Homo sapiens: one gene and its partners. The protein of the gene in region 1 purifies or fractionates together with the protein of each later gene. This does not show direct contact. Each region holds a gene or a part of one and is shown in the gene's direction. Other genes may lie near its edges.

The links.
Region 2: the proteins of EEF1AKMT2 (region 1) and ZNF318 purify together in Homo sapiens (affinity purification with mass spectrometry; one large-scale study listed by BioGRID and IntAct). This does not show direct contact.
Region 3: the proteins of EEF1AKMT2 (region 1) and RGPD8 purify together in Homo sapiens (affinity purification with mass spectrometry; one large-scale study listed by BioGRID and IntAct). This does not show direct contact.
Region 4: the proteins of EEF1AKMT2 (region 1) and SMG7 purify together in Homo sapiens (affinity purification with mass spectrometry; one large-scale study listed by BioGRID and IntAct). This does not show direct contact.
Region 5: the proteins of EEF1AKMT2 (region 1) and TBL1X purify together in Homo sapiens (affinity purification with mass spectrometry; one large-scale study listed by BioGRID and IntAct). This does not show direct contact.
Region 6: the proteins of EEF1AKMT2 (region 1) and RTF2 fractionate together in Homo sapiens (co-fractionation; one large-scale study listed by BioGRID). This does not show direct contact.
Region 7: the proteins of EEF1AKMT2 (region 1) and CTPS2 purify together in Homo sapiens (affinity purification with mass spectrometry; one large-scale study listed by BioGRID and IntAct). This does not show direct contact.

What each region holds. Positions count from the first base shown.
Region 1 is NC_000010.11:124,784,889-124,788,976, reverse strand, and holds part of EEF1AKMT2 (EEF1A lysine methyltransferase 2), read left to right. Parts: intron 1-4,088.
Region 2 is NC_000006.12:43,366,315-43,371,177, reverse strand, and holds the start of ZNF318 (zinc finger protein 318), read left to right. Parts: upstream 1-1,755; 5' UTR 1,756-1,790; coding exon of another isoform or gene 1,791-1,812; coding exon 1,813-2,211; intron 2,212-4,863. Other genes in the region: atherin-like, read right to left, coding at 1,057-1,755, 1,791-1,814.
Region 3 is NC_000002.12:112,391,956-112,396,043, reverse strand, and holds part of RGPD8 (RANBP2-like and GRIP domain-containing protein 8), read left to right. Parts: intron 1-1,290; coding exon 1,291-1,426; intron 1,427-2,824; coding exon of another isoform or gene 2,825-2,937; intron 2,938-4,088.
Region 4 is NC_000001.11:183,538,043-183,542,130, forward strand, and holds part of SMG7 (nonsense-mediated mRNA decay factor SMG7), read left to right. Parts: intron 1-337; coding exon 338-398; intron 399-2,941; coding exon 2,942-3,061; intron 3,062-4,033; coding exon 4,034-4,088. UniProt on the Homo sapiens protein: Plays a role in nonsense-mediated mRNA decay. Recruits UPF1 to cytoplasmic mRNA decay bodies.
Region 5 is NC_000023.11:9,709,226-9,713,313, forward strand, and holds part of TBL1X (F-box-like/WD repeat-containing protein TBL1X), read left to right. Parts: intron 1-22; coding exon 23-97; intron 98-407; coding exon 408-535; intron 536-2,385; coding exon 2,386-2,551; intron 2,552-4,088. UniProt on the Homo sapiens protein: F-box-like protein involved in the recruitment of the ubiquitin/19S proteasome complex to nuclear receptor-regulated transcription units. Plays an essential role in transcription activation mediated by nuclear receptors.
Region 6 is NC_000020.11:56,467,191-56,471,933, forward strand, and holds the start of RTF2 (replication termination factor 2), read left to right. Parts: upstream 1-1,436; 5' UTR 1,437-1,507; coding exon 1,508-1,576; intron 1,577-3,435; exon of another isoform or gene 3,436-3,751; intron 3,752-4,423; exon of another isoform or gene 4,424-4,479; intron 4,480-4,743. UniProt on the Homo sapiens protein: Replication termination factor which is a component of the elongating replisome. Required for ATR pathway signaling upon DNA damage and has a positive activity during DNA replication.
Region 7 is NC_000023.11:16,709,641-16,714,508, reverse strand, and holds the start of CTPS2 (CTP synthase 2), read left to right. Parts: upstream 1-1,839; 5' UTR 1,840-2,174; intron 2,175-2,291; exon of another isoform or gene 2,292-2,996; intron 2,997-4,668; exon of another isoform or gene 4,669-4,698; coding exon of another isoform or gene 4,699-4,785; intron 4,786-4,868. UniProt on the Homo sapiens protein: Catalyzes the ATP-dependent amination of UTP to CTP with either L-glutamine or ammonia as the source of nitrogen. Constitutes the rate-limiting enzyme in the synthesis of cytosine nucleotides.

The sequences.
Region 1 (4,088 bases):
ATTGAGGATATTAACCATCTAAATATAAAATAGTAAAGCAGTCATACTTGGAGAAGTCAGATAGTACAAAAGGGAGGCTACATGGATTGTGAGAGAACCTAGGCAATCTGAGTCCTAGTCTTGACTCTTTTGGCTATAGTCTTAACCTTGAGTAAGCCACTTAATTTTTCTAGGCTTCTGTTCTTTCCTAAGGGTTGTGACTAGGTGATTGCTATTGGTTTCTTGTAGCTCAAAACTCTAGAAATGCATATATATATATATATATAAAGATGACCTTTTGCAATTCCAGTAGGACATACGTATCTTATCTTATAGGTAAGCATATGGTTTGAAAAGTGCATTTTGTCCATGGAACTGTGTTTCGGTAAACATTCCACTGCTAGCTAAACCATCACTGTTGTATGCCTGCAGTGTGCTCTTGCTATGCTGTGTGCTGTGGAGGAATTATAAGACTTAGGCTTCATCCTAGATAATTTTACAGTCTTAATTAGTACAGAAATAAACATAAGAGTGAAATTTGTTAAGTAACCACCACATGCCAAGCCTCATGTTTGGCATTGGCAACAGGAAAATTTAGACTTTGTGCTTGAATTGTTTACATTACAATAGAGTATGGACTGACATATGGACAGTTGTGCCATCACTTGATGCATGCAGTAATACACTGAATATAGAAAAGAGGGTGATTAATTTTGGAGTGGAGGGGTAGGGAAGCATCTTGGAGGAGTAAATATCCAAGTTGGGTGGAAATTTCAGGGACAGTTTGGTGACCTAGTGGCGTGTAAAGAGGGAGAAGATTTCAACTAATGGAAATATTATCTAAAGGCCTGAAGGCTGAAGCAGTATTTTATGTTCTGGGCCTGTAAATAATTTGATAAATTGAAATACAAAGTATACGTGGGGATGGACAGACATGAGGATTAAGTTAAAGATAGGAACCATATTATGCTTTGCCATGCTTAAGACCTTCGATTTTGCATTTAGGCTATGGGGAATTGTTAAAATGTTTTTAGTAGTGGAATATGATTAGAAGAACTTGAAATAACCCTTCTTGAAACATTGAGATATAGTGTGTGTACATTAAAGTGCACAAATCAGAAGTATACAGCTAAGTGAATTATCAGAAAGTGAATACATCCACATAACAATCACCTGGTCAAGATGTAAAATATTATAGAACTCTAGAAATTCCCCTTGAACTCTCTACCAATTATTACTCCTTTCTTCCTTTTTTTTTTTTTCAGGCTTTGTCACCCAGGTAGGAGTGCACTGGTGAGATCATGGCACATTGTAGCCTCAACCTCTCAGGCTCAAGCGATCCTGTCGCCTCATATTTTGATTTTTTTTGTAGAGACAAGGTTTCACTATGTTGCCCAGGCTGGCCCTCCTTCCTTTTTAAAAGTAACCACTATCTACCAATCATGAACAAAAGATGAGTTTTAACATCAGATTAATTTGCCTGTTTTTGAAGGTATAAATGAAACTCTTTAGGGTGTGCTATTCCTGGTGTCTTTCAGGCTTTTTTTTTTTTTTTTTTTTTTTTGAGACAGAGTCTTGGCTCTGACACCCAGGCTGGAGTGCAGTCTCACGATCTTGGCTCACTGCAACCTTCACCACCTGGGTTCAAGTGGTTCTCGTGCCTCAGCCTCATGAGTAGCTGGGATTACAGGCGCACGCCATTATGCCTCGCTATGTAGTTCATTTTTATTGCCATATAAGATTCCTTTGTGGCTGGGCGCTGTGGCTCATGCCTGTAATCCCAGCGCTTTGGGAGGCCAAGGCAGGTGGATCACAAGGTCAGGAGATCGAGACCATGCCTTGGCTAACACGGTGAAACCCCGTCTCTACTAAAAATACAAAAAGTTAGCCGGGAGTGGTGGTGGGCGCCATATAGTCCCAGGTACTCGGGAGGCTGAGGCAGGAGAATGGTGTGAACCCGGGAGGTGGAGTTTGCAGTGAGCGGAGATCAGCCTGGGCGACAGAGTGAGACTCCGTCTCAAAAAAAAAAAAAAATTCTTTTGTACAATTATATCAGTTTCATTTATTCTTTCTTTACCTGTATAGGTTCTTTTGGGTTTTAATAGTTTACTGGTAGAGGCTAATGATTTATACTTTGAGATTAATAGCTTGTAGATTATTTTCTTTTCTTTTTCTTTCTTTTTTTTTTGAGATGGAGTTTCACTCTGTAGCCCAGGCTAGAGTGCAGTGGTGCGATCTCAGCTCACTGCAGCCTCTGCTTCCTGGGTTCAAGCGATTTTCCTGCCTCAGCCTCCTGAGTAGCTAGGATTACAGGCGTACACCATGCCTGGTTAATTTTTGTATTTGTAGTAGAGATGGGGTTCTGCTATGTTGGCCAGCTGTTCTCAAACTCCTGACCTCAGGTAATCCATCTGCCTGCCTCAGCCTCCCGGAGTGCTGGTATTATAGGTGTGAGCCACTCTGCCTGGCCTGAACTTCTTTTTTTTTTTTTTGAGACGGAGTCTCACTCTGTCCCCCAGGCTGGAGTGCAGTGGGGCGATCTCGGCTCACTGCAAGCTCCGCCTCCCGGATTCACGCCATTTTCCTGCCTCAGCCTCCTGAGTAGCTGGGATTACAGGCACCCACCACCACGCCTGGCTAATTTTTTGTATTTTCAGTAGAGACGGGGTTTCACTGTGTTAGCTGGGATGGTCTCGATCTCCTGACCTCGTGATCTGCCCGTCTTGGCCTCCCAAAGTGCTGGGATTACAGGTGTGAGCCACCACGCCCGGCCCTGAAATTCTTAATTGAAGTGTAGTTTATGTAGAAAGGTGAGCATAAGTGGTACAAAATGAACCCCTTGTGTTATTCACCAACCTGACCAAAAAATAAGACATTTCTAGTACCATAGGAGCTTCCTTGTGGCCCCTCCCACTCCTTCCCTTCTAAAGGTGACCACTGCTGTCACTTCTATCATCATATAGTAGGCTGTTTTTGATATTAACTGTAGTAGCTTCTTACGGTTTTAATTTGCATTTCTCTAATGAGTAATGAATGATGTTGAGCACCTTTTCAGGTGCTTGTTTGCCACTTGTGTATCTTTTTTTTTTTTTTTTTTTTTTTGAGACAGAGTCTCGCTCTGTTGCCCAGGCTGGAGTGCAGTGGCATGACCTCGGCTCACTGCAACCTCCACCTGCAGGGTTCAAGTGATTCTCCTGCCTCAGCCTCCTGAGTAGATGGGATTACAGGTGCGCGCCAGCACGCCTGGCTAATTTTTTTGTATTTTTAGTAGACATAGCGTTTCACCATGTTGGCTAGGCTGGTCTCGAACTCCTGACCTCAGGTGATCTACCCACCTTGGCCTCCTGAAGTGCTTGGATTACAAGCGTGAGCCACCACGCCTGGCCTGTTTATCTTCTTTAGTAAAATGTCTCTTCAGATCTTTTGCCCATTTTTAAATTGGATTGTTTACTTATTAAGTTTTGACAATTTTTAACGTATTCTGGATATAAGTTCTTCACCAGGTACAAGATTTGCAGATGTTTTCTTCTATTCTTTGGCTTATCTTTTCATTCACTTAACAGTATCTTCTGAAGAGCAGTTCTTAATTTTGATGAAGTCCAATTAATTTTTTCCTTTTTTGGATCATGCTTTTGTTGTAGTATTAAAGGACTCTGCCTAACACAGGGTCACTTAGAACTTCTTCTGTGTTTTTGTTTAAAGTTTTAACACTTTACCTTTTACATTCTTTTTTTTTTTTTTTTTTTTTTTTGAGACGGAGTCTTGCTCTGTCACCCAGGCTAGAGTGCAGTGGCATGATCTTGGCTCACTGCAACCTCTGTCTCCTGGTTTCAAGTGATTCTTCTGCCTCAGCCTCCCGAGTAGCTGGGGCTACAGGAGCGCAACACCACGCCTGGCTAATTTTTGTATTTTTAGTAGAGATGGGCTTTCACCACATTGGCCAGGATGGTCTAAAATGCCTGATCTCGTGATTTTCCCCCCTTGGCTCCCCAAAGTGCTGGGGGTGCAGGGGTGAGCCACCGCGCCCAGCCTACCTTTTACATTTAGACCTTTTTTTTTTTTTTTTTAAGATGGAATCTTGCTCTGTCTTCCAGGCTGTAGTGCAGTGG
Region 2 (4,863 bases), on another chromosome or scaffold:
ATTAAAATGTTATTGGTTTCTTATTTTATATAAATTATATAAAATGTGAAGCTGGGTAAAAGTAGTCAACTAGTAAAAATTTTATACATTTTTACTGAGTATATGCCATTATAAGAACGTATGGAAATGGATATATATATATATGGATGTATTTTTTGAGAGAGGGTCTCACTCTGTCACCCAGGCTGGAGTGCAGTGGCATGATCACAGCTCACCGCAGCCTCAACCTCCCGAGTAGCTGGGGTACAGGAACGTGCCACCACACTCGGCAAATTTTTTTTTTTTTTTTTTAGAAATGGAGGTCCTTCTACGTTGCCCAGGCTGGTCTCGAACTCTCAGGCTCAAGCAATCCTCCTGCCCCGGCCTCCCAAAATGGTGGGATTATAGGCGTGACCCTTTGCGCCTGGCCCACTTTTGTATTTAGGATGCAGGGCCCTGAGATTGGCATCTAGGAAAATTCTGGACTTAGGCCAGGGGAGGGGGCATGCCTGGATCTCTTACAAAAACTTGCCACGCCTCCAGTTGGTCATGATGTGGGCCCCTGGTAATGAAGGACCTCCACCATGACCACAAGTACTTTAGTCAGAAAACAGCTCGAAAACGTGTGAAGAGAGTCCACCAAACAGGCTTCGTGTGAGCAACAAGGCTGTTTATCTTACCTGGGTGCAGGCGGGTTGAGTCCGAAAAAGGAGTCAGCAGAGGGTGGTGGAATTATCATTAGTTCTTATAGGTTTGGGATAGGTGTACAAAGTACATTCTTAAGGGCGGGGGAGAATATTACAAAGCACCTACTTAAGGGCAAGGGGGAGAATATATCCTGTCAGTTAGGGTGGGGCAGGAACAAATCACAATGGTGGAATGTCATCAGTTAAGGCTATTTTCACTTCTTTTGTGGCTCTTCAGTTGCCTCAGGCCATCTGGATGTATACGTGCAGGTCATAGGGGATATGATGGCTTAGCTTGGGCTCAGAGGCCTGACAACGTCTATTTTGGGTTTGATTCTGGCCCACCACCTCCACCTCGTACTTTCCTATCCTCAATTTCAACCTCTAGAAATTAGGCAAACTGGAAAGTAAACTGATGCGGGTCGTGTTGCTTCAGCTGGGGACAGGATTTCGGTGGGCGCTCCTGCCGGGGTCCGTAACCTCCCACACAGCTAACGTTTACAGGCCCGTTTATATTATCACGAATGGTTTTCAACCATTTCGTGTCCATCCCTAAATTAAGAGGCTTGAGGGGCGGCACGAAAGAGCGAAGACACCTCCGCACGGTCTCCAAACCCCTAAGTCCAGAGGCCTGGAGCATCCCCGGAAAACCAGATCCCTCTCCAGAGAAGCCCTTCCTTCCGCTCCGCCCACCCCGCGCGGAGGCCACAGGGGTCACGTGGCGGCCGCGGGAGGGGGAAGTGGGCGGCTCTGCGGCCGCCATCTTGAGGATTCGGAGGCGGGGCGTGCAGAGCTCAGGGCGCGCGCTTCGCTTCCCCTCCCCTCGCCCAGCCTCGCGCCGGCGTCTGTGCTCCTCCCCACTTTTCTTGGTTCCTGCGGCCGCTCCCTGAGTGGAGGAGCGGGGAACCCCGGAGGCGGGGGGGGGTGTGTCGGACGCGTGCTCGCGCCCTCCAACCGCCAGCCGCGGGGGCGCGCTCGGCCGGGCCCCCGGGGCGACGCGGGGCCGAGGGGAGGGGGCTGCTCCCGCGGCTGAGGCGGCGCGCAGCGGCCGAGGTGGCGGCGGCTGCAGCTGCGGCGGCGCGCTCCGAGCCTGCGTCTAGGGCGCCCCCGGGTCAGAGCTGTCGCCGTGGCCGCCGCTGCAAGAACCATGTACCGCAGCAGCGCTCGCTCCTCCGTCTCTTCCCACCGGCCTAAAGACGACGGCGGGGGCGGCCCGCGCAGCGGCCGCAGCTCTGGCTCCTCCTCAGGCCCGGCTCGCCGCAGCTCACCGCCGCCTCCGCCCTCCGGCTCCTCGTCGCGGACCCCGGCTCGCCGACCCCGCTCGCCCTCAGGGCACCGCGGCCGCCGGGCCTCGCCGTCCCCGCCACGGGGTCGTCGCGTCTCCCCGTCCCCGCCTCGGGCCCGTCGCGGCTCCCCGTCGCCACCGCGGGGCCGACGACTCTTCCCGCCGGGCCCGGCCGGCTTCAGAGGCAGCAGCCGGGGGGAGTCCCGCGCCGACTATGCCCGGGACGGCCGCGGAGACCATCCAGGCGACAGCGGCAGCCGGGTAATCCCACCCCTCGTCCAGGACTCCCTCCATCCCCCAGTCCCCTCCCCCGGAATTCCCGTTTCCAGAAACGCCCGGGGCCTCCAGACCAGGGTCCTAAGCGCGAAGCCTCCGGCCAACTCCCTCGGGGATGCCGAGCCTGGAGGCTTCTGTCAGACCCGGGAGCGTTGACACAATAACGGACTCGGGAGCGCACGGGCGTCTCGTCGGGAGTGCGCGCTCCGTTCCTTAGGAATAGGCTGTTTCTCTCATGCCGGGTGAGGTGTGGAAAGTTTGCCAAGGCGAGGGGCATTTCGTCCAAACCGTGTGTCTTGGTACTTTTTGTAGAGTTGATGTGTCCTCGGGGTTCCGTACTTTTCATCCCCTTACACCTGAGCTGCCTTCCTGGATCTTAGGGGAAAAAGCCGAAATGTCCGTTTTTGTGGCGAGTTAGGGACGCTTGAACCCTACCAGGCTTTACGTCTAGAGTGTAAACTGTTAGCTTAAATGAATTGGAGCTGCTGCTTCGGAATGAAGTGTGCAGGACCACAGTCACTGCCATAGCCACTACCTCTTATCGAGTTCTATGTCAGGAATTATGCCTAGCCTTTCACTTTGCACATTATTTTAACCCTCACAAGTCTTTGAAGTGAGGCAGTTAATACTATTCCTTGTTGTACAGCCGAGGAACCAACCCAGAGAGGTTCAAGTAACTCGACTGAGGTGACACGGCTAAGTGGTGGAGCTGTGCTTCAACTCAGATCCGCCTGGTTCCCCAAATCCATGATTTGAACCTCTATGTTTCACTGCTAGAGGAACGGAGCATGAGTTTAAGTTTAGTTTTAGAAATAATGTTGACCTTTAACCATAACCACCACCCCAAGAGATCCTCTAGGTAGAGTCTGGTTTTTGGGAATTTGTTTTATTTTTAGTTCATCAATCTTTTTATTATTATTATTATTTGAGAAAGAGTCTCACTCTGTTCCCCAGGCTGGAGTGCAATGGCATGATCTCAGCTCACTGTAACCTCCGCCTCCGGGGTTCAATCAATCCTCCCGCCTCAGCCTCCCAAGTAGCTGGGATTATAGGCGCCTGCCATCATGCCCGGCCTCTTTTTTTAAACTTAGTAACAAAGTTCTGCTTTTTTGAGTGGCTCTCTAACATGTATGTAAGTACTGTGAGTACTTTGGTCATGGTTAAATTGATTTGTCACTATGTTAAGATTTCCAGTTGAGCAGTGCCAGTGTGGGTGGCAGTCACTACAGAGGAAGGAAGAACAGAATGCTTGTTTACACAACCTCCTTTTCTTCTCCAGTGCGCAATGTATTTGCTCCAGTCTTTTCTGTCTGAGTAAATAGCATCATCCGTTGCTTACATCAGAAACAGCCATTATCTCCCTTCTTCCCACATCTAATTTGTCAGATTACCTCATCTGTCTAACCCGTTAGCTTTACCTCTAGAATACATCCCCAAAACTGCCATCCTCCTGCCATCACTCTGGTCTAAGCCCTATTACCTCTTGCATGGATTGTTGCATTTGGCTCCTTTACACTCCGCCCTTGCTACCCTCCAGTTTGTTCTGGAGGTTACACAGAAATCAAATTGATTTTTAAGCCCTCATTTTATACATTTGACATGTATTTATTGAGCATCTACTTTGCATTAGGACTGTTCTGGACTACCCTGGGGATACAACAAAGTACAAACCAGAAAAAAACTCCTATCCTTATAGAGTTAATATTCTAGCAGGGAGAGTTGGATAATAAGTTGAAGTTAGAAATGCGATGGTATGTTAAATGTAATTAAGTACTAAGAAGGACTAAGAAGTACTAAAATAGGGCCGGGCGCGGTGGCTCACGCCTGTAATCCCAGCACTTTGGGAGGCCGAGGCAGGCGGATCACGAGGTCAGGAGATCGAGACCATGTTGGCTAACACGGTGAAACACCGTCTCTACTAAAAATACAATAATTAGTCGGGCTTGGTGGCGGGCACCTGTAGTCCCAGCTACTTGGGAGGCTGAGGCAGGAGAATGGCATGAACCTGGGAGGCGGAGCTTGCAGTGAGCCGAGATCGTGCCACTGCACTCCAGGCTGGGGACGACAGAGCAAGTCTCAAACAAAACAAAAAAAAAAGGACTAAGAGCAGAGAAGGGAGTTACAGTTTGTGTGCGTGTGTGTGTATGTAATATAGTGTTGCTCTGTCACCCGGGCTTGAGTGTAGTGGTGTGATCATAGCTCACTGCAGTCTCAAACTCCCACGCTCAAGCGATCCTCTCACCTCAGCATCCTGAGTAGCTGGGACTACAGGTGCGTACCAACATCCCAGCTGATTTTATTTTAAAAAAATGTTTTGGTGTGGGGAGGGATTTCACTATGTTGCCCAGGCTGGTCTCAAACTCCTGGCCTCAAGTGATTCTCCTGCCTCAGCCTCCCAAAATGCTGGGCTTACAGGCATAAGCTACCATGCCTGGCCCGGGGAGTTAAAATTTTTGAGAGTAGTCAGGGAAGGCCTCCTGGGAAGGTGATTTTTGAATAAAGATCTGAAGGAGGTGAGGGTGTGCTGTGCAAGCATCTGGAGGAAAAATGTAGTCAGATGATGTCACTATCCTGTGTAAAACCCTCCTATAACTGTTAATTGCACTAAGAATAAAATCCAAATTTCCCAACTGTGCT
Region 3 (4,088 bases), on another chromosome or scaffold:
ACAGAGAAGTTTGAAACTTTTCAAAATTTACCTGTTTTCTGATACCACTACAATTTCTTTGGAAAAAGAATTTCCTGTTAAGTGTCTGTTTTGTAAGGGGACATTTTGTAGGTTCTAGGGTGTTGGGTATGGTGCTGTCATTTAGTTTTCTTCAGCAGAGATCAGGTAGCCACATAGCTACACTAGACGGCATTGGATCTATCTGCCATCTTGTCAAGGCAGCAGAGTTGTGTTAAGAAAACATTTTTGGAGTCAGATGTGTTTCAAATTCCAGCTGTTATTCCCTGCATCCGTTTCTCTCATTTTAAGATAGGAGCTAATATTGTTTACCTAACAGTGTAGATGGTGTAAAAATTAAGAGTTTAAGTGCATTGGACGTATTATTATATACATAATAAATTCTCTGCAGCTACTACTTTTTTCCCTTTCCTGGTGGAGCATTTGAACATCACCTTGAGAATTAGTTGTATTTTGTTTGAACACAGGGTTAAGTGAAAAGCTAATTTGGGGAGGTGATTTGGAATGTCAGGTAGTCCAGGTTGCAGTGTAGAAAGAACACACTGAAAGGATGGTCAGTGTAATGTTAGAGGACTGTGAAAGTTGGGGAAAGAAGTTTAGTTTGTAGGTACTTGTTTTTTTGAGCAGGGAATTGTCTTGGCTGGAGGTGAACGTCAGAAAGGTTAATGTAGGCAAGTGTAGAATGGAAATGAAGGTGTGATCATTTAGGAGGTTATTTGTTTAGGTGAGAGAGTTAATGAATTAGGTTTTGTATTAACGAATGAAAATGGGAGCAGATAAATTTTTAACAAATTAAGAATCATATTTTAAAATCAGCACCAGGTACCTAGAACTCTTTGGCAAATAGAAACTTTCAAAAGATATAATCAGGTCCGGGCGTGGTGGGTCACACCTATAATCCCAGCACTTTGGGAGGCTGAGGTGGTGGATCACTTGAGGTCAGGAGTTCAAGACTAGCCTGGCAAACATGGTGAAACCCCATCTCTACTATTATACCAAAAATTAGCCGGGCGTGCTGGCTGACGCCTGTAATCCCAGCTACTCGGGAGGCTGAGGTGGGAGAATTGCTTGAGCCCAGGAGGTGGAGGTTGCGGTGAGCCAAGATTGTGCCATTGCACTCCAGCCTGGACGACAGATCGAGACACCATCTCAAAAAAGAAAAAAAGAAAAAATCAGTTATTTAAATTTAAAAGAGTAAGTTTCCCCAGCACTGTTTCTGGCATGATATAATTAAATGATTAAAATTATTTGATTTTTTTTTTCTTCCAATAGAAAGAAATGCAGGAGTTGAAACTAAATAGCAGTAAGTCAGCATCCCGTCATCGTTGGCCCACAGAGAATTATGGACCAGACTCGGTGCCTGATGGATATCAGGGGTCACAGACATTTCATGGGGCTCCACTAACAGGTGAGCTGGCAAGTGGATAATCGCATATTTTAGTAAAACTACTTTACTTCCCTCTTTTAAGTAGATAACGTGTGAAATCACCTTGTTTATATATGTTTGTTAATATACATGTCAACGTCTGTTTATATGTGACTTCAAAAGCTGTATTAGGTGTTACGGAGATTTTTATAATCCCAAGCAGAAAAAACGAGCCGTATGTGATCACGTGTATATAAAGGCTTAAAGAACACTTAATCCACACCTCAGATGAGCTGAGATGAGATTATTCCTTAAATTGCAAAATGTTATTGAATAGAGTTATGCACTAAGAAATGCTTAATTAAGAACCTACACCTCTGGGGAATTATTTTGATGATAATGATGAGAGGCAGGACGTTATATAGGAAATCTTACTTAATTTGAAATATTATGGTTATATAAAGAAAGAAAAGGAGTTTGGACCTGAATCATACTGGGTTTTTAAGTTCTGCTCTATCACTTACTATAATAGCTGTGTAAGTTAACCTGTCTGAAATGTGGAGATAATACTTGCCTTACATAATTACTATGAGCATTTGTGTATGTGCAGGTGGGCGTGGGTGTGTATCAGACATTTATTAGAGTATACAGTAAACAGTTAATGAACTAAGGTTACTAATAGTGTTTACTGTGGGTTGGCTGTGTGCAAAAGTGCTGTGTGAATGTAATTTGATTTAATTACAGTAACTTAGAATGGCCGGCACCATTATTAATCCCTTTTTTATAAATAAGGAAATGGATAAAGAAAGGTTAGGTAACTTACTCATTATTATACAGCTAGTTATTGATAGAGCCGAGATTCACACTCCAGTGGTGTAACTCCAAAGCACTTGCCAGTATAATACATTGCTCCCAGGCAGCCAGAAATAACAAAATTGTTCCTTTTACGTACGACAGACTTCTGAAATGGTAGTAGTAGTGCCCTTTTTTTTTTTCTCTTTTTAGCCCAGGAAAGATTTAGAAAAAAATCTAGTTTAGATGAGCACATTTGTGTGATGGTTCCTATAGTTAAGGCAACCCCACTAGCCTTTTGTGATAGTATCTTCTCAACACAAGCAAAATAACAGAAAATCTTTGTGAAGTCAAGCTTATTAAATGTCGTAAGTCATAGATAAGTATATGAAATGTCTAACGTTCAAACCTTGTTTTCTTAAAACCTTACACATCATATAGGTCCTTGTAAGAGGATAAACAAACCGGCTAGCCTTTCCTGGGGCTTTTTTAGTGATGTGTGCAGTCAGTTATTTGGTGCCTTGTGGGTCATGATTTCCATTTCTTCTGTGTACAGGCATAAAAGGTCTTCTGTTCTTATACAAGCATGTAAATCCAACATTCTCATTGTCTCATTTTATTCTTGCAATGACCCTGTGAAATGTGTAGAAGCAGCACATCGTCATTTTACAATTGAGAAACATGGAGACTCCAAATGGATTATTTACAGGTTCACAAAACAGCTTTGTGGCACTGAAAGGGCGAGAGCCAAGATCTCCTGATTTCTGTTCCTGTGTTCATAGATTCTTTTTCCTTAATAAAAGTAAACATATATCAAGATGGTCCTTGTTTTTTTAAAATAAGATGATTAAAATTAAAGATTAATGAGCTCATAGGAGATACTCAGAAGTACTGAACAGGGTGAAGAAAACTAAAAGCTAACCACCTTATTAACATTTCTTATATTTGAGAGCATTTCCTTCTGGTTCTTTCTCTATACATATAGTATTTTTTATGAGATTGTTACCATGTTACTATGTTGTGTGTAGATGAGCTAGCCTGTTTTTAAAATGTTACTTTAGTTCTGAGCATTTTTAAACTTAAATGTTTTTTGAATATTAATGAGTTCATGGTATCCCATCACATGGAAGTACTGTAAATTCTGTTCCTTTATTTATGTTGTTTCTGGTTTATGCCATTACAAATTCTAGGACACTGTCCTAGTTTTGTAGGGTATTCAAAATATTCAGTTTATGCTCTTACCGCTAGTATCTGATAGTGCCATTTTCGCACTTTTGCTAATGCTGACTTACTAGTTTATAAAATCCTTTGCCAATTTGTAGGAACAAAAGTGATATCAATTTTTAAGTTTTTTTAATACTAGTCATGCTCAACAATTCATGCAAATGGCAGTTGGTAGTTTTGCCATCTTCAACGTACCTTCCAGTTGTTTGGTTTCTTGGTAAAACTCACACAAAACAGATGGAGAAGAGTTTTTGTATATCAACATGAATGTTAATGTGATTTTTTTAAAGCCAACGAACACATTTGTGTTCCTTGTGAGATCCTGTGCGTGAATTTGTCAGGTAATTTTTTTGACCTGAACATTCTCATAATAGCTTCAATTTGCACAATGCAACCTCGTCATTTTGCAGATTTTCAAGGCTCACTTCAAAAACATGTTCCTTGAGGCCTATTAACATTTCTTTCCTAAATTGTCTATTCATATGGTGCTTTAAAAAATTAGATTACTTTTAGTAGATTTATTAGAGCCGCACAGTTTAGAGTCAGTAGTCAATTAAAGTCCCTACTTAAACTTCAGACTAAGATTTTTTTTTATTTAATATTTTATTTTTTCTTTTTGCTTTCATGCAGACAGACATCTTGCAAGACTTTAAGATTCTTGGGCCATTTCTGTCAGGTTGTTCTGTGT
Region 4 (4,088 bases), on another chromosome or scaffold:
TTATTCAATACTTTCAGTAAAAAGAGACAGGTAATCTAAACATTGGGCTTACTGGATCCAAGACTATGAATTTTTAAGACTGCTGATTTTTTAAAAAGCCATTCTCCTCAGCATTGAGTATTAGGTGAGTGTTAGGGGAATGTCTGTGTCCCAAAGATAACATGCAGAGTTTTGACAGGTGAGTTATTTTCATCAGGATCATGATAAAGAAGAGCAGAGAACAATAAGCATTATAATTTCTTTCTGTATGTTAATTTTTAAAAAAATTTAGTGAACAGTATTCCACCAAACAACATTTTAATTAAAATGTTTGCAAATTTTGATTTTGACCCTTTAGCGACACCACTTCCAGAGGAGTTTGAATTACAAGGATTTTTGGCATTGAGACCTTCTTTCAGGTAGGTGATAGCTGAAGTACCTTTATCATTGCCAGTGATTGCAGTATTAAAATTAGCAGAGAATTGGGCTTGGATGTAGAGGAACCTTTGATCTGTCCCAGCTGTGTGTTATTTTTGTAACGTCAACTAATACTGAAAGTTGTTGTGAATTGGATTTGTGTATGTCACGCCTTCAATTCCTGTGTAATAAAAATTAAAATGTAACCTTTCCATCTGTGCCCTTGATCCCATCCCTTCTCACCTCCCTAAGAACCTTGCTCCATCTGTTATCCTCTCTGCATTGTATTTCCAGTGTCTTGTCTTTCTTTCCTTTCTTTTTTAAACAACTAATTATCTTTAGCCTAGTAACATTTAAGTGTGCCCCATTCTTTTAAAAAGGTAAAATGAATTTACATCCCTCTATTTTCCTACGTTGCCTTATCTTTTCATCATCAAACTTCTTAAAAAGAGTAGTATGCACTTTGGGAGGCGGAGGCAGGTGAATCATGAGGTCAGGAGATCGAGACCATCCTGGCTAACCCGGTGAAACCCCGTCTCTACTAAAAATACAAAAAAAAAAATTAGCCGGGCATGGTGGCGGGTGCCTATAGTCCCAGCTACCCAGGAAGCTGAGGCAGGAGAATCGCTTGAACCCAGGAGGCAGAGGCTGCAGTGAGCTGAGAGATCACGCCACTGCACTCCAGCCTGGGTGACAGAGTGAGACTCCGTCTCAAAAAAAAAAGAGTAGCGTGGGCCAACCTGACTGACTCCACTTCAACTCCTGATCATTTTCAGCCTACTGTGGTTTAAACTATCAGTGCCTTCTAGATACCAAAATCCAGTGACTATAGTCTTTATCCTATTGAATTTTCTTCAGCATTGAGTCCGTCGATTTCCTTCCTTCATGAAACCTTTTTCCTTAGCTCTGTGATGCAATTTTTCCCACCCTTAGCACTCAGTCTTTTTCACTATTTCTTTTAAACTACATGCCTCTGAATGTTGTTGTTTTCCAGGATTCTTTTCTTGCCCTTTCCTTCTCACTTTGTACATTCACCCTGTTAATCAAATCCATCCCTATGTCTCTTGAATGGTATGTCCCAAATTTTCAGCTTTGACTTCTCTTGAAGTTTGGATGCATATTCTAACAATCTGACCTCCCTTACGCATTTTAAACTTTAACGTGACCAAAAACTGAGCTTATATTTTCCGATTTGGTCAGCCAAAAAGCAATCTTCTTTCTCTATTTTCTGTCTGTGCCTGTGGCATTACCCATCTATATGACCAAGCTAGAAATCTGAAAAACCCTTGTTTCTATTTGTCTTTCTCACCAAGCCTTTATAATTATGTGTCTGAAATGCTTCTTAGGTTCAAGTCCTTCCGTTTATTTCCCTATACATAGTTCAGGCTTTTCTCACCAGTTTACCTGAAGTATAAAAACCTTCCTACGTATAGTTCTTCTCCTCCTATAGTCTGTTTCTACACTGCCTATAGTTTTTAAGTATGGAAATAGTGATGTTGCATGACTAATATTTTTATTTACCCATTCCCAGTTGCTCCACTGTCTCTTTTAGCTTGATGCTCAAGTTCCAGCACTATCCAGCTCCTAGTTGTTCAGCCTTATTTTCTTCCATTTCCCCCAGTATTTATAAACTCTATACACTATGTGCTATACTTGAATAGCTCACTATTTTTATTCCTCCACACCTTTGTTCATGTTGTGCCTAGAACATTTCCTTCTCCTCTACTGCCCTTCCATCACCAGCCTGGTAAGCACTTAGCCATACCTGTCAAGGTCCAGCTCAGGTATCACTCTATGAAACCTTTCAGAGCTTCTCAGAAGGAACTCATCCTCCTTTTACTATATTCACTTAATTCTTTACATAGTTCTTATTATGCTTATCAGATTGAATCATAATTATTTATTCCCAAAGGTAGGGACTCTTATTTATCTTTGTGTCCTCAGCATCTAGCCTTCTGCCTGGCAATTCTTAAATCTTCTTAAAAAAAAAAAAAGTTTAATAAGGAGAAATCTGAAAAATCTTTATTTTTTCAGGTTGGTTTACCCTTCTGATATCAATGAGTTATTCTATATGCTTTACGATATTTATACATTTTTCTGATTTAGAATGGTCCACCACAAAGTGGATAGATTAATATTATTTATTAAAATAGGCACCTCAGAGACTCTTAGCATTGCCATGGTCATTTCAAGCAAATTACTTGGCATGCAAGATAAATGTTTATAAAACTTTATTCTTAAAATGATAAAAGAATCTTTCCTAATAAAAAGTTGTGGTTTATTTGAGCTCCCTGACTAGAAAGTGAAATGTGAGTAAAAATATTACATTAATGTAATGAATTTGTATATTTTCTTTTCTGCTTTGTTTCATAGTTTGTAAAAATCTCTGGTAGTATAAATTCTAATAAATGCAGTTGATTACATCAAGTAGCTAACCTATGTGGGAAGTAATCTGAAGCCATTACAGTTAATCAGGTGAACTTGGTTGCCTGGAAAATATCTTTAGCAATTTAATATTCTCATAACTTGCTTGTGTCAATTTTAGGAACTTGGATTTTTCCAAAGGTCACCAGGGTATTACAGGGGACAAAGAAGGCCAGCAACGACGAATACGACAGCAACGCTTGATCTCTATAGGCAAATGGATTGCTGATAATCAGCCAAGGTAAGTCTGGAACTTCTGGTCTACCCCTTTTTAACCACCTTTTTAGATAAACACATGCGCGCACACGCGCGCGCACACACACACATCTCATATGTTACGTATTTTAGGCTTTGGTATAAATATTGTCAATCATGAACTCTTAAATCGACATGTTGGTAGCACAACATCTAATTATAACCCTAGTGAGTAAGTATACTCTTTATTTAGAATCTCTGTTCTCCCTATTGTGTATTACAGAGGTCTTTCTTGTTTATCGTGAGTTTCTGCTCTAATTTATAAATATCTCTGTAAATCTAACTGAACTGTACTTTCACAGTCATGGTAATTTGTATTGGCCTGGGCATGGTAGTCAGTTTCAGGCAGGACAGACCAAGATCGTGCTAGTAGCCAGTTAAGTACAAAGCAGATGTGGTCGTTAGTGTAGGGAAAAGAACGCAGGTTTTGTAATTCCATTGGTTTGAGTTCCGTTTCGAGTTCCGCAGCTTCTCAAGTGGGTGTCCTTGGGATCTCCCCAGTAGATTATAACCTTTCCAAAGTCACTAACTACTTCCTCATTTTTGTATTCAGGTTTCTGTCATACAGTAGGTAGTTAAATGCTTCCATGTTTGAATGAACTTACCACCTCCAAGCTTCAATTTTCACATCTATAGAATAGGAATTATATATAGCTACCTTATAGGACATATCAAGGGCCCTAGACCAGTGTCTTGCACTTGAAGCATGCTCAGAAAATGTAAATTCTAGCAAACGTTGAAAGAGCCAGAGGGATAGGTTGTGACGATGTTAAGTGTGATAATGAGAACCTCAGTTTCTACATAACTACTTTTTGTGTTACCTGAATCCACATTGTTATATCCTGCTGTTTTCATGGTTATTAGTGCTAGGAATATATTGACTTGGATCCACACACAATTCAGTTGTTATTTTTTAAGTTAATGTTTTTTATATATGGATTTATTTTTGCTTTTTTAGGCTGATTCAGTGTGAAAATGAGGTAGGGAAATTGTTGTTTATCACAGAAATCCCA
Region 5 (4,088 bases), on another chromosome or scaffold:
ACACTCTTCTGCTCTCTTTCAGAACGAGGTCAACGCCATCAAATGGGATCCGTCTGGAATGTTGCTGGCATCCTGCTCGGATGACATGACATTGAAGGTAGAGTCGGCATGGCAAGGGGTGGGCTGTTTAATCCTAGACAACCCCGGGCACTTGATGCCAGTCTCACGGTCACTCTTACATGAGGATTATTTATTACTGACCACCCTCCCTTCCTCTGTCATCCGGTGAGCTACGATTTCTCAGTCATAGTCCCACTGAGAATCGCAGCCTCCCTGCAGCCTTTCTCACCACTGTGCACCCTCCACCCTGCCCTGGGCCCCGTGTGCACCCCCGGGAGGAATGATTCCACATCGTTCCCGGATGCAGGAATGGCTTTTGCTCATGTTGTGTCTGGTGTGTTCTGTAGATCTGGAGCATGAAACAGGAGGTGTGCATCCATGATCTTCAGGCTCACAATAAAGAGATCTACACCATCAAGTGGAGCCCCACTGGGCCCGCCACCAGCAACCCAAACTCCAACATCATGTTGGCAAGGTAAGGGCAGGCAACACAGCTGGCACAGCTCGGTGTTACACAAAGACAACAGGAAATTCTGCTAAAGCGCGTCCATGCACGTGTGTTGAAGCCCTTCAGAGGAAGCAAAGCGGTAGCTCACTTTGAAGGGGCCAGGATAGAATTACCGAGTAACACCTGCCTTTGAGGTAAGGATGGTTTTGAGTCAGGCACAGTGGCTTACGCCTATAATCTCAGCACCCTGGGAGGCCAAGGCAGGACGATGGCTTGAGCCCAAGAGTTCAACATCAGCCTGGGCAACATGGTGAAACCCCATCTCTACAAAAACTTAGCCAGGCGTGGTGACGTGTGCCTGTAGTCCCAGCTACTCAGGAGGCTGAGGCAGGAGGATGGCTTGAGCCCAGGAGATTGAGGCTGCAGTGCGCGGTGATCACACCACTGCACTCCAGCCTGGGTGACAGAGCAAGACCATGTCTCAAAAAAAAAAAAAAAAAAAACAGAAGAAGAAAAAAAACCACCCAACATGACTGCAGAGCCACAGTTGAGGGACAGCAAGCCAGGCAGCACCAACTCCTGTTGACGGTGCTCGAATTAAGGTCATCTCTTAGAGAGGACAGGATGGAATTCCTGCATCCACTGAGAGACGGAACCAAAAAAACAAAGAACACATAGGCCGTAATTCTCATATTTCAAGTAATTGTCATAAAATCCACTTAAAGTACTGTGATATAGTGTGATATAGTACTACACACTCGAGTTGTTTTGTGATGACTCAGAAGGTGCTTTTGCGTCGCGTGGTACTATTAGGAGCATAAATTATCCTTTTAGTCAGCAAGTATAAAAGGGGCATCCCGGTACCTAATGGGTCCCTGTTGAAAGAAAGCAAGCCAGACAATAGCTTTGTGATAGATATTACTGTTCTAAGTTTGAAAATAACTAAAATTTGCAGCTTTCAATAATGTGATTACGTATGTGGATGTGATTGTATTTTAATTCTTGTTTGATTAAAATTTATTTTCTATTTAGAGACAGGGTCTCCCTATGTTACCCAGGCTGGTCTTGAACTCCTGGCTTCAAGTGATCCTCCCACCTTGGCCTCCCAAAGTACTAGGATTACAGGCATGATCTACTGTACCTGGCCTAAAAAGTTTTTTAAATGTTTATTCACTTAATTTGCTATTTTTCCAAATATGGCTGTCTGTATTAATTTAGTTGGTAATAATAGATGTCATGTTTTAAATTGTAGGGGCATTTTAGGAAACTTGATAAATATTCTACAAAAATATTTACCATTTACGTCTATAGGAAACATAGAAACAGGGCTGGGCGCAGTGGCTTACACCTGTAATCCCAACAGTTTGGTAGGGTGAGGCAGGAGGATCTCTTGAGCCCAGAGGTTCAAGACCAGCCTGGGCAACACAGTGAAACCCCGTCTCTACAAAAAATAAAAAAATAAAAATTAGCCGGGTGTGGACCTATGGTTGCAGCTTCTCTGCTGAGGCTGAGGCGGGAGGATCACTTGAGCCCAGGAGTTCGAGGCTGCAGTGAGTCATGATCACGCCACTGCACTCCAGCCTGGGCAACACAGTAAGACCCCATCTCAAAAAAAAAAAAAAAGGTGCAGAAACAAATGTAGATATCAAATTGTTTCCCTAATAAGACCATTAAAGCTTTTTTTCTGTTTAATGACTATGGCTTTGTTTTTAATACTTGTAAGTAGTTACAGTTTAGAAGACAAAAAGCTTTTTAGTTATTATCTTTTGAAACGTAAAAGCTGGGAAAAACAACTCCTGGAGATCTGATACACATTATGGAGAACTGTTTGAAACCACCGTGTGTATGTGATTTTGCTTTCTCTCCCACCTTGCTAGTGCTTCGTTTGATTCTACGGTGCGACTGTGGGACATAGAACGAGGCGTCTGCACCCACACGCTCACGAAGCATCAGGAGCCTGTCTATAGCGTAGCTTTCAGCCCTGATGGGAAGTACTTGGCCAGTGGATCCTTCGACAAGTGCGTCCATATCTGGAATACTCAGGTAAGCTCCCGACCCCTACACCAAATCCTTTTAGTAAGGGATGCCCAAATAGCCACGACTCCAGTGCCCTTGGCTCAGAGCAGTGCCCCGGAGGGAGTTGAGCAAGCTCAGGCTCCCCGGGCAGACCCAGTGGATGCTGTCCACGTGCACCCCACGTGGGCTGTCAGCTCTTCCCCCACCAGACACCTCCGGCAGCTCCCCTCCCTGAGGAAGGGCGTCGTGTCCACCGTAATCATGGCTCTTGGCCATTTGATTCCAAACCCTCACCTTGGCACACGTTCTTCCTTGAAGGAGCCGCTGTCTTCTGTTCACTTTTCTGAGTCCATGGCACGAAACCTTCCACCTGCCTCTTCCTCTTCTTAGCAGTTATCACCGAAGTGCTGCTCTCTAGATACTGAGGTTAGAAGGTGGGAGTGGGGGACCAGCTAACGGGGTCAAGGCCACACCAGCTCCTGCAGCTCCCTTACGGAGCAGACCAGGGAGTGGGAAGGAATGTGCTCTTGCTGTTGTCATGCCACTTCAATTTTTCTTTTCTGTTTTGTTTTGTTGTTGTTGTTTTTTGTTTTTGTTTTTGTTTTTGAGACGGAGTCTCACTCTGTCACCCAGGCTGGAGTGCAGTGGCGCGATCTTGGCTCACTGCAACCTCTGCCTCCCAGATTCAAGCAAGTCTCCTGCCTCAGCCTCCTGAATAGCTGGAATTACAGGCACCCGCCATCATGCCCAGCTTATTTTTGTATTTTTAGTAGAGACAGGGTTTCACATGTTGGCCAGGATGGTCTTGAACTCCTGACCTCAGGTGATCCGCCCACTTTTGCCTCCCAAAGTGCTGGGATTACAGGTGTGAGCCACCGTGCCTAGCCTCAATTTTTCAAATCAAAGTAGGTTCTGTTTGAGGACATAAGGTATGTCAATATTGGGTTGTCCTTTTAGCAGGGATTGAAAGGACATAGGATTTAAATAAAGGTGGCTGCTGTGGGTATCTTGGGCCACACCTGAGGATAGAAGAATTCCAGCTGTAAAGTGTAGAAATGGATGGGAAGTAGCACTGCATAGCATAAAGGATTGTATAGGGCCATCAGCACGTGATTCTAGTCTAAGGGAAGAGAGAGGTGATAATATGCTAGGAGCTGTTGAAAATAAGGAAGGGGTCCCTTTCGCCTCAGGAGGGGAGGAATCACACAGCCTTCCCCCTGCCCCCTTTCATCTGCACTGCCTTCTTGGTTCCTTTTGGCTTGGTTGACATTCAGGTGGATTTATACCCTCAAGTTCATTCCCCCTGTGGACTCAATGGTGATGAGCCCTGTTCACTGGCAAGGGGTCCACTGAGATCACAGGCTTCCCAGGGACCTCATGTGAACCACATCCTCTCAGGGAAGGAAGGGAAATGGTGGACCCTGCGTAGAGCCAACCCGACGCCAAGCCCAGCCCCACAGCCCTAGATAGCTCTCCGGGAAGCACGCATCTCAGCACTAGTGTCCAAGAGTCTCCGTTCCTGAAATCCTCGCTAGAAATAGTAATGGGTGGATTTGTAAAAAGA
Region 6 (4,743 bases), on another chromosome or scaffold:
AGCTTACAGTTATTGTGGTTAGCATAGAAATAAATCATAAATCAATCAGAGACCAACTAATTAAAGGGATTATTTTTTAAAATTCTCATTAATCACAGTAACAAGTACCCCAAGCTTACATATAGCCCTTGAAGTTTCCACATCCACGTATTTTCTGGGCAACTCTTCCCAAGTAAAAAATATTTTCAGCGTTTTTATGTTTCACGTAGGTCAATAGGGTAATATCCAATCATAAAGATCTGCCTTCTTGGCAATGGAGAAATTTTCCCATCATATATATGTACAAATACATACATACATACATACATACATATTAATGACAGAGTCTTGCTCTGTTGCCTAGGCTGGAGTGCAGTGGCATAATCATAAGCTCACTGCAACCTTGAATTCCTGGGCTCAGGCAATCCTTCCTACCCCCTCAGCCTCCGGAGCCGCTAGGACTACAAAAGCTTACCACAACGCCTGGCTAATTTTTCTTTTTCTTTCAAGATGGTGTCTCACCATGTTGTCCAGGCTGACCTGGAACTCCTGGGCTCAGGTGCTCCTCCCGTCTCGGCCTCCCAAAGTGCTGGGATTATAGGCACTTTCCCATAATATTTATAATAATTAAAGGAACAAACAGAGAGATAGACAATCGCCTAAGAGCAGACAGACAATCATGAATTTTTAGCAAGGGATTTGTGTTCTTATAGATAAAATACAGCCTGACTCTTGGAACGGGCATGGCAACATCAGTGTATATTTTATAAGAACTATTATATCGTCTATTAATGATACTTGATTGTTAATAAAATTTTTTTAGCCTGGGCTTCAGGAAACTGTGAATGAAATACACACACGCACAAACTGTATGCAAAATTTCACACACATGCCATCTACAATATGCATGGCAACACCAGAAAGTTCCAGGCCTTAAGGGAGGGTCTTACTTCCTAGAATCTGTTGTAACATCACTTCACAAGATTTGTTGTGAGTGCTTGAGTCACAGTTGGCGCTCAAGAAAGATGCGTTCTCCTTTTAAACACAAAAATGTCCATTGATACAGCAGATTCCGTTCATAGGCATCCTTAATCGCAGAAACAGGAGGGCGGCCCTTTTCCTCAAGGCGCTCTCAGTCCAGGGATGTGCCCGCTCCGCAGCCACACAAGCTGGCGTGGGATAGGGTCAAAGAGCGGTGGATGCGCACGGGCCGCCCACGCCCTCGCTGCCCTCCCGGAGCGTGGGCGAGTGATTCCGATTGTGCAGCAGAAACCCAGGGTCTCACGGGAACGAGGAAACCCGCCCACGCCCAGCCTCCAAGCGACGCTCTCCATGACAACCGGCACTTGGTAACGGCCTCGCCCTGCCCCGCTACGCCGCGCCTAGCGTGCCGCCCCGCCCCGCCCCGCTACGCCACGACCAGCGTGCTGCGTCACGGCGGTGCGCCGGAAGTGGCTGCGGATTTCGCCGGAAATCCCGGAAGTGACAGCTTTGGGGGTTTGCTGCTGGCTCTGACTCCCGTCCTGCGATGGGTTGCGACGGGGGAACAATCCCCAAGAGGCATGAACTGGTGAAGGGGCCGAAGAAGGTTGAGAAGGTCAGTGATGTGGGCCGGCTCTTGGCGACCGGGGGTGGTGGGAATTTGACGACCCCAGAAAACGAGAGGAAGTAAGAAGGGGGAGCCAGCGGAGTTCCAGACCTGGCTGCGGTCTTTTATTCCATTCAGAGGACTCAAAATTAACAACAGTATTAAGAGTGGACATTCAATGGGTGCTGACTATTGCCATTCACTGGACAGTAATCTTAACAGGGGGTATCTCATGTAATTATCACAATAGCCCTATAGCTACATACTGTTGTCCTCATTTTCAGACATGGAAGTTGAGGCTCAAAAGGAGAAATTTGCAAAGCTAGTAAATGGCAGAGCCAGGATTTGAACCCTACCTGCGACTAGTAGCAATAATACAAATACCTAGTGTATACTGAGTTTTGTATACACTAACTTCATTTGCTCAGAGAAGCCTTCCCAAACTGTTCCCTTACCACATCCTTTTATAAACTGTCTTAGCCTGCACACGGCTGTACGTGGTTGATTTGTATCAAGTCTTCCCCGCTAGACGGTAAGTTCCTGATAGCAGAGGCTGTACCCTTTTTTTCTCTGCAACTAGCATGGTTCCTGGCACACTAAATATTTCGAATAAACAAATGAGTGAATAATCCCTGATCTCACAAGTAATCGAGGAAATTATAATAATTTCTTTGCTACTGACGGGGACATTGAGTCCAGGGATATTAAGGTGACTAAGATCACACAGCTGGTAGGTAGTGAAGCCAGGATTCCCATCCACTTATTTGGGATTTCAAAGTTAGCACAAGTAATTACTTTTTAATGATAAAATATTTGTAAAGCACCTAGTAGAGACTTCTTTACAAAAATATTTGTAAAGCACACGTGGAGACTTCATGTATTCTGATTCAGGAGCTGGAGAGCTTGTTTAAAAGGTAAACCCCTTAAGTCACTATTGTATTTGAAGCATTCCAGTGGCTTCCCATCACATTAAGAATAAAATCTCGTCAGACCCTTGAGCAGACCTTGCCTATGTTTCTGACCTCATCTTCTGCCCCTCTCCACCTCTTTCATACTGTTCTAGCTAAACAGGCCTCTTGTTCTTCAACCTGGAGTGTGAGTTCATCAATCTGAAATACTCTTCACTGAGATTGTCACATGATGAGTTTCTTTACTTCATTCAGTTTTTTACTCAAATGTCATCTGTCCACTGTAACTGAAATGTGCCTCACTTCCAATATTCTCTCTTCTCTTCTTAACAGTGCCTACCACTGTGTTGTTTATTGTCTCTTTCCCACGTAGACAGGAACCTTGTGTGTCTTACCTCTGTAACCCCTACCATGTGTCAGCCACATAATAGACACCTAATAAGTATGTGTGAATATGGGAATGAATGAATACCCAAGAGGATGAAGTGTACCCTCTGATCATACGTACATGTAAACAGGCGAATGCTGGATAATTAGCATTCATGAGTGGTTTTTTGGCTTTCACCAAAAAAGTGTTTAGCTCAGTTTTGTTTTCTTGTGCCCAGGGCTGAAAAGGAGTAGCTTAATGAAAGGCTTGACAAGAAACAGGTGTCGGAAGAGGGTAGAAAAGAAGGAAGAGCGATTCAAAAAAGCCAGAATGCCTAGGCAGGATGGATTTTTATTATAACTATTCACACAACAAATGCTTAATAAGTGGTTACCATATATACATTGTTGTAGGCCCCAGGGATATAGCAGTGAACAAGGCAGAGTCTAGCCCTGGTGGAGCTTACATTTCGGATCAATATTGTGAAATCTGCCCTGGTTCCTAACGCAGAGCACCTAAATTCCTTGTAATTTCCTGGGTGACGGGATCATCTTTTGTTCTAATAAGGCAATTATTGGTGGGCTCCTGGATGGGGCCTGGTCACCAGAAACACCAAGCCAAGATTAGAAGCCTGGAACTTTCAGCCCCACCTCACCCCCATCCTTCAGGGAGGAGAAGAGGAATTGGACATGGAGTTAATAATCCATCATGCCTACGTGGTGGGGTCTCCATAAAGATCCCTGAAGTTGAGGGTTTGGAGATTTTCTGGGTTGCCGACAACATCCACATGCCAGGAGAGTTACCCCAACTCCATGAGGACAGCCCTGCACTTGGGACCCTTCCAGATTACTTCTTTATCTGGCTATTTATTTGTATCCTTTAAAATGTATTTGTAATAAATCAGCAATGGTAACTAAACTCTTTCCCCATATCTGTGAGACACTAGCAAATCATCAAACTGGGCGGGGGGATCGTGGTAGCCTTTGATTTATAGACAGTCAGAAGTGCAGGTGACAACTTGAACTTGTGATTGGCATCTAAAGTCGGGGTAGGGACAGTATTATGGGACTGAGCCCTTAACCTTTGGGATCTGAGGCCATATCCAAATAGGTGGTATCAGAATTGAGTTTAATTGTAAGACACCTGGCTGCTATCAGAGAATTGGTTGGTGTGGGGAAAATCCCATACATTTTGTCCGAAGTGTTCTGGAAGTATTGAGTGTTGTGAGTGAAAGTATAGAAAAAACACTTGTCTGGCCAGGCGCGGTGGCTCACGCCTGTAATCCCAGCACTTTGGGAGGCTGAAGCAGGCGGATCATGAGGTCAGGAGATCGAGACCATCCTGGCTAACACAGTGAAACCCTGTCTCCACTAAAAATACAAAAAAGTTGCCGGGCATGGTGGCAGGTGCCTGTAGTCCCAGCTACTCGGGAGGCTGAGGCAGGAGAATGGCGTGAACCCAGGAGGCAGAGCTTGCAGTGAGCCAAGATAGCGCCACTGCACTCCAGCCTGGGCGACAGAGCAAGACTCCGTCTCAAAAAAAAACAAAACAAAACAAAACCACTTGTACTTGTCTTTCCAGTACAGATATGTAAAAACTTAAAAGAAGAAAGACCCTAGGAAAGAAGAGAGACCCTGGTAAACACATTTTTTACTGCTTTTTCGGGGGAAACAATTTTCAAAGCCCTGGATAAGGAGTGATTTGTCACTTTTCTCCCTGTCCCCAACTCTCTGAGGTGCTTTTTGAATATAACCTAATCTCTTGGTGCCTCACTTTCCTCATCTTCAAAAGTAAAAATACTAACTCATAGAGTTTTTCTGAGGATTAAAAAGTTATGGAAACTGCTTAGCACAGTGCCTGGCACACAGTAAGCACTTAAGCAGTTTTTACTTTAAAAATTA
Region 7 (4,868 bases), on another chromosome or scaffold:
GAAAGGCACTGACATTTGTTCTGCAACCTTCTCCCTTTCCTTGTCACAGTCATCTATTAGTTTCAGGCTCACTACCCACCCCGCAACCCCAATTCTCTAAAGTTCCTTGACCTCGATTGACTCCTCCACCTCCTGCCATCCTTTTGGGACCCTCGATGTCCAACATACCAGCCTTGTGGGCACTAAACCCAAGGCCAGTGATGCCCATCTCACTTTTCTATTCCATTGTAGCTGCCACACCCCAAACTGTCTCATTTCCTGGAATATCCATTTGAAGGCCTGAACTCCAGCACCACACTCTCTGCTGCCAGTTTGCCAGTCCTCTCCTCAGAGGCCCTGGCCTTGGAGCCCTTCTCTCATCTGTCTCCCAGTCCATCAGCTCCCCGCTGGTTTTATTAACAGTTCCTGTCCTCTAGGACTAGAGCTCTGGCCCATCACTGCAATCGCAGTCTTTCTGTGCCCTCCACCTCCTCACCCTCTTGTCCTTCTATTCTATGCAAGCAGGAAACTTGGGTTTCATAACTAAGAGCTATATTTCTGTAGATACCTTGCCAGATTATAGCAGATTATAGCTGGACACCACTACACGATGATGGTTTCTAAACTCCACTAGGTCTTCAGTGACTCTTGTCTAACTTGTCGCTCTAGCATCTCACACTGGTTATGCGAAATTTCCACCACTTTCCTAAAACCTTCCATCTCACTTCAGACCCTTCTGTTGTCCATGTTAGCTTCCTTCAGTGGTTGGCTTCTTGCCTTCACCCGAAAAACCTCCTGTATCCGTTCCCAGCACCAATCATCCTCCAATACTCTTTTTTTTTTTTTTTTTTGAGACAAAGTCTCCTCTGTCACCCAGGCTGGAGTGCAGTGGCCTGATCTCGGCTCACTGCAACCTCTGCCTCCCAGGTTCAAGCGATTCTCTCTGCCTCAGCCTTCGGAGTAGGTGGGATTACAGGCAGGTGCCACCACACCTGGCTAATTTTGCATTTTTAGTAGAGACAGGGTTACACCACGTTGGCCAGGCTGGTCTCGAACTCCCGACCTCAGGTGATCCGCCTGCCTTGGCCTCCCAAAGTGCTGGGATTACAGGCGTGAGTCACCCGAAGAGTGACTTTTTAGAGTATTTGGGCGGGGTGCAGTGGCTCAAGCCTGTAATCCCAGCATTTTGGGAGGCAAGGCAGGAGGATCAGCTGAGGTCGGGAGTTCGAGACCAGCCTGGCCAACGTGATGTAACCCCGTTTCTGTTAAAAATGCAAAATTAGCCGAGCTTTTTGGCATCCGCCTGTAATCCCAGCTACTCCGGGGGCTGAGGCAGGGACAATCGCTTGAACCCGGGAGGCGGAGGTTGCAGTGAGCCCAGATCGCGCCATTGCACTCCAGCCTGGGCAAAAAGGGCGAACGAAACTCCGTCTCAAAAAAAAAAAAAAAAAAAAAGTCACTCTTGGAAGCCTTAATTGCCTTCCTCCCCTCACTGCACCCCCGCAACTCTTTGCTGCAGAAGTATTGTTCTAGGGAACCTTACTGGTTCCAACAGACGGGTGGACCTCCCACCAGACTGTGAGCTAGCTCCTCAAAGGCAGGCATTCTCTTTCCTTTTCCTTCTCTCCTGAGCGCTCCTGCAGTTCCTGGGGCGTAGTAGGGGATCCACAAGCGTTTGTGACCAGTGAAGTTCTTTACAAGGGTGAGATCTGCACGGGAGGACCCGAGCGAGGGTCTCGGCTTGCCAGGAAGCCGGGGTTCCCCGGGAAGCGTGGAGTTCACCCGCGCACTCGAAGTGCCTTTGCAAAGTGAGCCACGGGAGGGAGGAGCGGTCCCCGGGCTGGGCGAGGCCTGGGGCCCAGTGCGTCCAGAGCGGAGGGTGACGGGAGCTGCCTGTGCTGGAGGAATCACTTTTTAGGCGCTTGTTTTGGACCATTGCACAAACCCGGGTGCAAACCCCAAGCTCACCAGCGTGAGTGAGCTGGGCCAGCAGCAGGGAGGAGAGGGGAAGGTGGGCGAGGAGGGCGCCGCGCACCCCGAGGCCCGTGTGGGCGGTGGGAAGATCCCGGGGGCGGCTTTGGACAGCCCCGGCAGCGACCCCTTCCCCAGCCCGACAGGTGAGCGCCAGGCCAGCCGCGGGGTGGAGCCCGCCGTGCCCACCGGCCACCCTCCCCGGTGCTACCACCACCGCGCAGGTAACTTCCCTTCTGGGCCTGTCCCAGACCCCCAGGGCCTCGGCGCCCGGGCCATCCCTCGTCCCCAGGGCCTCTCCGCCCTGCACCCCCAGCCCCGGTGCACTTGTGGGGCCGGGCTCCTTTGTCCGCTCTCTGATGGCGCCGGCTCCCTGCCCAGCGCTGAGTCGGGTCCGGCCGCCAGCCCCGCGCTCGCAGACCTCGGCTGCCGGGTGTGGCGCGGGGACTGGGGAACGCTGGCCCGTGCCCAGTGCGGTTGGAGCCTGTCCCGCGCGTCCCCGGGACGCGCTTCTTCCCGCCTCCGCCCGCGCCAGCGCCCGCACCCGGATCCCCACTTCTCCCGGCCCTCGGGAGCCAGGAGAGCCCTGAGATGGCGTTGGCGGAAGTGAAGCCCCGAGCGGGGGTCTGCGAGGCTGGTGATCAGCGCCGGTAACATGGCCTTTCTGTCCTCTCCCCGGTCCCAGTGCACCCCTTAAACAACGACCCCCGCGTTTTCCCCGTACTAGATGGTTAGGGCGCATAGTGCCGAACTACGCTGCTGCTACAGAATAGCTTTTTTGGGGGCAACATAAAAAAGAATTGTATGTATGGTTTATATACAACAAAATGTCCCATTTTCAGTGTGCAAATCGACGGGATTTGACAAATTATACACTCCTGTAACCATTATCCCAAAGTGAACATTGACCATTTCCTTCACCCTGCAAAGTTCCCTGGTACCTCCTTTCTGTCAATCCACCCCAGGCCCCGCACTCAACCCCGGTTCTGATTGTTATCATAGCTTAGCTTTGACTGTTCTAGAACTTCATAGAACAAGATCATCAGGTAAGTACTCTTTTGTGTCTAACATTACTTTTTAAATGGCCATCACTGAGAAGGTGTCTCTGGGTGCTTCCGGTGCTTTTATTTGCTCTAGGCCTGCCTGGTCTAATGTGGGAGCCACTGGTCACATGTGGTTATTGAATACTGGAAATGTGGCAAAATCCGTACTGAGATGTGCTCTGAGTACAGGCACCTGATTTCTGAAAGCTTAGTACACAAAAAAGATGTCAAATATCTCACTAATACATTCTTACATTGTGCGTTAAAAGTGATAACATTTTTGGCTACATTGGGTTAAATAACATATATTAACATGAACTTCATTTGATTCTTTTTACTTTTTTAATATGGCTACTAGAAACTTAAAATTACGTACCTGGCTGTGTAATATTTTTTATTAGGTAGTGGAGACAGCACAGCTCTACACTGTGCTATCCTATAAACACTTGGTTCTGCTCACTGCATGTAAGAGTAAATGAAAAACTTGTCTTGACACCAGAAACAATCCTCAATGGAGGAAGTGATCTAAAACAGGGCCAGCCTTTCCCTGAACCTTTGAAACTTTGTTAAACTTACTTGTGTGCTTAAAAGAAGTAGAGGGCCGGGCATGGTGGCTCATGCCTGTAATCCCAGCACTTTGGGAGGCCGAGGTGGGCGGATCACGAGGTCAAGAGATCAAGACCATCCTGGACAACATGGTGAAACCCTGTCTCTACTAAAGATACAAAAATTAGCTGGGAATGGTGGCATGCACCTGTAGTCCCAGCTACTTGGGAGGCTGAGGCAGGAGAATTGCTTGAACCCGGGAGGCGGAGGTTGCAGTGAGCCCAGATCGTGTCATTGCACTCCAGCCTGGTGACAGAGCGCGACTCCAACTCAAAACAACAACAACAACAACAAAGTAGGAAGAATTAGGTGTCCCCTTGGTATTAAGTTGCATTTTTACAAAAGGTCTCTAAAATATCCAAGGTGCTTTAAAAAGGTATCTTGTGTTTTTGAAAAAACAGAAAATGAGCAATTGCTTATGTAGGGGAGGAAAGAGCTGATATCATAAGGGTCACGGCTGACAGCCTTAAACAAGAGACAGATTAACAAGAGAGAAGCATAATAATTTATTGAATCATAGGTTTATGTGACATGGGAGCCTTCAGAAATGAAAACCCCTTAAAGATGCAAGGGAAATGATCTGATTTTATGCTTGGAGTCCATGAAGCAGGGACAGATGAGCTAATGGAAATAGACTGAGTGGGGAAACCCAGCAAAGCCTGTCCACATTCTTCTTGGCCTCTCTGTTGTAGCGTTTCTTCCTCCCCAGTATGGGGTAGGACCTCTTTGGAATGAGGGTCTTAATTTCTTTATGGCCAGCTGTTGTATAGAAAGGTGGTTGAGAGGAAGGTTAGAGTCATATTTTTTGGCTTTATGGCTGGCTTTGGGGGGAAAAGGGTTCTAGTTTCTATGACTTGCCTTGGGGGAGTATGAGGGGTGAGAGACAGGAGGGCAGGAGAAGGTCAGAGAGAAACTTTGCTTCTGAGGCCTTCATTTTTGGGTTTTGTTTTCTGAGCCCCAACACATACAACCTAATCACCTAAATATATTAAGACATAACATGGTGTATCTTTGACCAAATTAAGATAGAAATCTGTTTTTTTTTTTTTTTTTTTTTTTTTGGAGACAGAGTCTCACTCTGTCACCAGGGTAGAGTGCAATGGCACGATCTTGGCTCATTGCAACCTTCACCTCCTGGGTTCAAGTGATTCTCCTGCCTCAGCCTCCCGAGTACCTGAGACTACAGGTGGGTGCCACCACGCCTGGCTAATTTTTGTATTTTTAGTAGAGACAAGGTTTAACCATGTTGGCCAGGATGGTCTTGATTTC